Homo sapiens: one gene and its partner. The protein of the gene in region 2 interacts with the protein of the main gene of each other region in a pairwise test. Each region holds a gene or a part of one and is shown on either strand. Other genes may lie near its edges. The genes, in order: MTNR1A and PSME4.

Region 1 (3,037 bases), on a different chromosome or scaffold from region 2:
AACCTGGGAGGAGGGACTGGAGCTCTGGAGGATGGTCGAATCTCAAGCCAGGAGGAGGTGAGCAGGAGCTGGAGAAGCTGTGAGCACACTGCCGTCACCCACCCCCTGCAGGGCAGCAGATGAGACTCGGAGTGCCGAGCTTGTGGTGGCGTCTGGCACTTGACACAGACATACTGAGGGCAGAGAGCAAGCTACTGCTGCACTTCCGCCTTCAAAATCTCACGCAATTGCCTCTTGTGGGGAACACTAACCCGGAGCGGTGCAAGGAAAAGTCTTTTCAGCTTCGCGAAGTTGACACAATATAAACCCACTGTGCATCGATTAACCCTCGGCCAGGTACTGTTCAAGGTGGAGGGAGAAGATATCTAAGACAGGCAGTGTCCTCACCGAGGTGATAGCTGGGGCTGTGGGAGATGGGGAGAAGTAGAGACATAATCGCGATAAACAGAAAAGCAACGTCGTGCTGCTGTGTCATTCCCAGAAGGGACTCACAGGACTAGTTCTGAGGAAGGTACTCCCAGCAAGCTGACATTTTAGTTGTCTGTTACCTTATTTTATTCATATCTGTGCCATATTTCACTTCCACTTTAAGGTTTTATTCCTGGGAACAAATATTGACTGTGCATTTTATAGTTGGTGCCTTTAATCACCACAAGGCTGATCGCTGTTCGTCTTGTTGCCAGCATACTGACTTAGGTGTTTTCCTCCCCCATCTTCTCTTTAGAATGTTCTAGTTCAAATACGCTTCTTCAGAATTGTGCCTGGAGAGGCTGTAAGCCAGGACGTAGCCACAGGGCCCAGTTTCTGAGTCTCGTATCTGTAGGAGCACAGGAGCTTTCTCAGGGAAATAACATTGAACAACACTCACCAGTTCATAGCATTGGTATAATCCTGACTCTTTCACTAAGTAGTCGTACGACTTCATCCAATTTAACTCTATATTTTTGTTTTCTCATCTTTAAAAAGTAGGAATTATCCAGGGAGATCATTAACCCATCTCTCAATTTTAACATCCTATGATTCTATGATTCTGCCACAGTAAGGATTGGAACTATATTCAACAGAGAAGAAATTCTTACCCATGAACAGACATTATTTTACATTTCAGAATGCATTATTAAGCTTGTTGCATACAGTCCTGGATATCTGTAAAAATGGGTAGATTGTCCATATGTCTGGAGTTACATAGATTTGAGAATGGAATAGATGAACTTATAATGTGTATAATTATAATTAGATGATTTAATGACTCTTATCTGGTGAAGTTCATAAAAGAAAAAAGGAAATTCCCTTTTTCCTTCTCCGCCCAGACACCACACACCCCCCAGGCACACATGAACACTGGTGCTAAAGCTTTATGTGAGCTACCTGACAGCCGCACCTGTGGGGAGTCTGTGGCTTAATTAATTTTCACCAAGATTTGTAAAATGGGATTAATTCAAAGAATCAATGATCTAATTAATGTAATTGCTTGAATTGTAATGCAACATAATTACTATAAAATAAATGAAGCAGGGTATTCGAGCCATGAAAGAAATTTATGACATCATTTGTGATTTCATTTTTAAGCTCTTTTAAAAATAAATCCATATTAGGCCAGTTTGTCATCATGACACTCTGGGAACAAATGTGCTGTTACAATGACAGTTTGATTTGGAACAGAATTTCACATATTATAGATGCTTTTAAAGCATTAAACATTTTGAGCTAAATAATTTATTAAAATACACCTCTTAGGAATTTAAATGTTTCAACGCTAATTGAAAGTGATCTGTGGGAAAATAAATTTGCCTTTGTAACTTTAATTTGGATGAATACAACCAATTTTTAAAGTATTTGCTTTTATGACAATTTATCTGAAATTCCTAAATAAATGGCACAAATTTTGCCTTTCTCTCATCTTGACTGCTATGGGCTGTCTCATTTCAAATATTGGGAAGTGACAGTTTAATGAACTCATTGAGTGTATGAGCAAAAGTCACTGTATTTATTGGGTGTGGTCTAGGACGCAAATATGAGGAAATGTACTCACGAGGGCCACCATCTGGAGACGCAGGGAAGCCTGGCCTACAGGTCAATAGAATAGAAGGCGAAATCTTCTGTCCGTCCACCTGGGGCTCCCTCTGTCCCTGTCCAGCGCACCCCTTTCCTCACAGCTTCTGGTCTGTGCGTGCTCTGGTGCTGCTGCTTACTCTAGTGTAATTTTCTTTTTCTTTTTTTTCTTTTTTTTTTTTGATACGGAGTTTTGCTCTTGTCACCCAGGCTGGAGTGCAATGGCGCGATCTCTGCTCACTGCAACCTCTGCCTCCCAGGTTCAAGCAATTCTCCTGGCTCAGCCTTCCAAGTAGTTGGGATTACAGGTGCCCGCCACCACGCCCAGCGAATTTTTGTATTTTTAGTAGAGACGGGGTGTCACCATGTTGGCCAGGCTGGTCCTGAACTCCTGACTTCAGTTGATCCACCCACCTTGGCCTCCCAAAGTGCTGGGATTACAGGTGTGAGCCACTGCGCCCAACCACTCTAGTGTAATCTTTTTGACTTTTCCTGTCTCTCAATTCCTGTTTCCCCCTGCACCAAATATATGCATTTAATATGTAAACTGAATTGAATTTATTATAATTTAATCTGAGTAAAAAGCAGTATAAAGTGCTTTAAGACCCTTCAAAGGAGGAAGCTCTTACCACTAGGTGGGCAAATGAGCAAAGGCTTCTGGCATTTCTATTTGAGATAGACTTGGGAGAATGGGCAGGATTTAGAAAGTTGATGTGAGGAGCCATTCGAGGCAGAAGGAATAGTAAGAAACAGAGGCAGAAGAGCCGCAAAAGAAAAAAAACATATTTGCAGAACATCTCATAATATTTGACTAATGTAGCTGGGAGCAATGGCTCACACCTGCCATCCCAGCACTTTGGGAGGCCGAGGCAAGTGGATGGCTGGAGCCCAGGAGTTTGAGAGCAGCCTAGACAAAATGGCAAAACCCCGTCTCTACAAAAATACAAAAACGAGCCGGGTGTGGTGGTGTGCACCTGTGGTCCCT
Region 2 (3,831 bases):
TTTTTTTTCTTTTCTTTTTTTGGGACAGGGTCTCACTCTGTCATCCAGGCTGGAGTGCAGTGGTGCGATCATGGCTCATTGCAGTCTTGCCTTCCTCGGGTCGGGTAATTTTCCCACCTTAGCCTCCCAAGTAGCTGGGACTACAGGTGTGCACCACTACGCCCAGCTGATTTTTGTATTTTTTGTAGAGACAAGGTTTTGCCATGTTGCTCAGGATGGTCTCAAACTCCTGGGCTCAAGTGATCTACCTGCCTCAGACTTCCAAAGTGTTGGGATTACAGGCATGTGCCATGGCTCCCAGCCAAGTCAACTTTCAAAGTGAAGTAAATTAAATGAAGTTTAAGGAGTTTTAACTGAAATCTACCAACATGCATTTACGGAGATCCCATAATTTATATGCAATAGAAAACTAAAAATCAGTCATTAACTTTTCCTTCAAAACGCTTGTATCAGAACTGATACAAGAAATGAGCAGCAAATTACATAAAGCAGTAGCCAACGGAGGGCTGAATGGGGTAGTAACTCAGTCTTAGATACATCAACATCTATGTCAACTGGCACTAGTATGAAGGGGTTGAGGAGAATGGATTACATAGTCACCAATATTTATGCAGTGCTATACAGAAAAACACAAATTGTATTAAGAAAAAAAAGAAGAAGAAGAACTGAAGTGAGGTTGAGATAAATCAGTGGCCCAAAACAAGATGCATTTGAACCATGGTGAAATGGAATGCTTACCTCTGTCATATCCTCCCTGCTTCTGCCAAGCTTAGGCTGCTCTTCCACACCAGCATAAACAACCATATTCCTATATAGTAAGAGTTCATATTTATCATACGCATAGAAAAAAATATTAGAGCTTCATGGATAGAAAGCATTAGAAGGCACTTTTAATGAACTCTAACTAGATGCTAAGTTTGGGGAGATGAGTACAGCAGTAACAGTCTAGGCCTTAAAAATCTATCAGATCACTGTGTCCTAATGACAAATGGAGTAAATAAGGAGAGAAAAATATGTATTTCTCTGGGCTGGTTTAGGCATATGTATTATTAATAGGTAGGAATATAATTTAGAGCAGCTATTAATAACCTCCTTAGCCATATAACCATGGGATTCAGAAAGGCTAAGGGTTTTTGCACAAGGAAAGAGGCAGGAATGAGGCATAGCATTGGCAGGAGCAAAAGAAAGAGAGGACTAGGGAAGGGGAAAGATAAAAGAACCTTCAAGTGCCTCTGAACCTCCCCAGAAACCAAAATATGATAAAGCAGTTATATCAAAGGCATTTAATGATAAGGTGCACAGTAAGTTACTTACTTTGGCCAGGTGTAGTATCCCCAGTGAGTTTTTTCCACAAAGCAACTTGACTCCCATTCTTTTTTAGTTCTTGGTATAGTTTTGCTGTCATAATGCAACCAATGATTATCAGGCCTATCACCAGCAATAATTTGGGTGGGTTTAGGGCATCCACCTAAGGAAAAGACAATCACATTTGATGAATTTAAAAATATTCGCCCAACAATTATTACCAAATTTCAATCAACAGTACCAGCATAACTTTGTCTTCACAAAACAACACTACAAAAATAACATTAAGATAACATATATATGAGCAATTGGAGGCACATTTCAAAACAGAGTAGATGGCATTATCTACTAAATTGTGTTGAATCAGTTATTTTGGGGGAGAGATCAAGTATGAAACACACTTCATTCCTTTTACCAAAATTAAAAGGATTAATTTTGTTTAAACTATTTAGATTTGAAATAATAATTTCAGACTTACAGAGCTCAAAAAATTCCCACATCTTTTACTGAGACACCCAAATTTTGACATTTTACCATGCATACTTTGATATTCTCTCTCTCTCCACACATACTTATCTAAACTATGAGTATAAACTGTAGACATCATCTCAAATAATCAAAATACAATTCTCAAAAAAGCTTTCATTAATACAGTAAAATTATTTCATCAACAGACTTTACTCAAATTTTGACAGTTGTCCCACTGAATGTACTTTATATGAAAAAAATTAAAACATTTTCTTCTGGACTATAATCCAATCCAGGATTAAACATTGCATTAAAGGAAACTAAAGATACCATACAATTTAAATGCAATGTTTTAATCCTGGATTGGAGACCAGAAAAAAATGGTTTTTTCTTCTGAAAAATTCTGGTAATACAATAAGGTATGAGGAAGAAAATTCACCTTGTCCCTAATCCCACCACCCAAAGAGAAACATTTAACAAATTAATAACAGCAATTTAAGTCTTTGAAATACAGTTGATAAAATAATTAGTATAATTGCTTAGTAGGTGAGATAAATATGAAGGCAGAAAGAGTCAATCTATTTTTGTAAATAGTTATCACTAGCTTTTACTAAGTCAACTGTTTCCTTCATAATATTATTTATATTTTGTGTTAATATCCATAGAACAATATTTGAGGTCAAGAACTAGAATTTATACATGTCAAGAAAATTTTCTGAGTTTTATTGGAAAGCACTATTAATTACTTCTGGTAGTACTCACTGATTTCACAGGGGTTAATGGTCAGCTTTTTGTGGGTTCTTTTTAGCTGTTTAAGGATACCAGCAACAGCTGAGATAGCCATCTAGAAAAGGAAAAAGGTACACATTCATAAAAAAAAGTTTAAATCACTTAACTGGTTGTCTGCTTTACTCAAAGCAGAAATAGGATTCTGTTTCTTTAAAAAAACACCTCGCCTATCGACATCTGGCAGTACATCCATGTGAGTGCTAAATCTGACTTAGAATGAATCATAGGCAGTTCTTACTCTACAGTCTTGACACATGCTAGTCTCTCTGCCTAGAAAACTTTGACCCCTTCTTTGTTAAACCAATACCTGCTCATTCTTCAAATCTTAGCCTCAGGGTTTTTTTTTTTTTTTTTTTTGACAGAGTTTTCACTCTTGTTGCCCAGGCTGTAGTGCAATGGCACAATCTCAGCTCACTGCAACCTCCCCCTCCCGGGTTCAAGCGATTCTACTGCCTCAGCCTCCCAAGTAGGTGGGATTACAGGCGTGTGCCACCATGCCCAGCTAATTTTGTACTTCTAGTAGAGACAGGGTTTCTCCATGTTGGTCAGGCTGGTCTTGAACTCCTGACCTCAGGTGATCCACCTGCCTCAGCCTCCCAAAGTGCTGGGATTACAGGCATGAGCCACCAAGCCCTGCCCAGCCTCAGGGTATTTTTAAAGGTCTTTCTCCAATGCTTCAGCTTAGGCCATCTCCCCAACCCCCACCTCACCTCTAACACTTGGAGAGTAAAAAGCTATACCCTCGAGTTTCTTGCCCCTCCTGAAACACACTGCACACCTAATTTTCTAATTGTTAAATCTTTCCCATTAGCCTATAAACTTATTTCCTGCTATATCCCCAGTCTTTTAAACAGAGTGCCTAAACATGTTCATTTGTTAGATGAATCATTATCATCTCTGAATCAACAGGGGGAGATTTCAAATCAATACACTTCAAGATATTTATTAACCAAGTGTGTATTGCTTGTGAAGAATTTAAAGACTTCAGGTCACGTACATATTCTCAAACCCAAGACTGTAGCTAAAACAAGGTATGTACCTTTCGAACTACAATTGCATCATGGTTGAGATTCTCAACAAAAAACCGTATGGCACGAAGAGGCAACACTCGGTCATCTCTCAGCAGTAGAGACAGAAGCCCAATGCCTATATGTTCAAATTTCCAGGGCCTTAAAAGGAGGAAAAATAACAAAGCATATCACACATAAAACCACTTGGAAAAAAAAAACTGTATGTGAAACACCTTATAATTTTAAATTTCTCAAGAAT

Evidence for each region.
Region 1: the proteins of PSME4 (region 2) and MTNR1A interact in a two-hybrid assay, tested with the Homo sapiens proteins (one large-scale study listed by BioGRID and IntAct).

What each region holds. Positions count from the first base shown.
Region 1 is NC_000004.12:186,535,544-186,538,580, reverse strand, and holds part of MTNR1A (melatonin receptor type 1A), read left to right. Parts: exon of another isoform or gene 1-336; intron 337-3,037.
Region 2 is NC_000002.12:53,894,269-53,898,099, forward strand, and holds part of PSME4 (proteasome activator complex subunit 4), read right to left. Parts: intron 3,732-3,831; coding exon 3,602-3,731; intron 2,618-3,601; coding exon 2,536-2,617; intron 1,469-2,535; coding exon 1,315-1,468; intron 809-1,314; coding exon 739-808; intron 1-738. UniProt on the Homo sapiens protein: Associated component of the proteasome that specifically recognizes acetylated histones and promotes ATP- and ubiquitin-independent degradation of core histones during spermatogenesis and DNA damage response.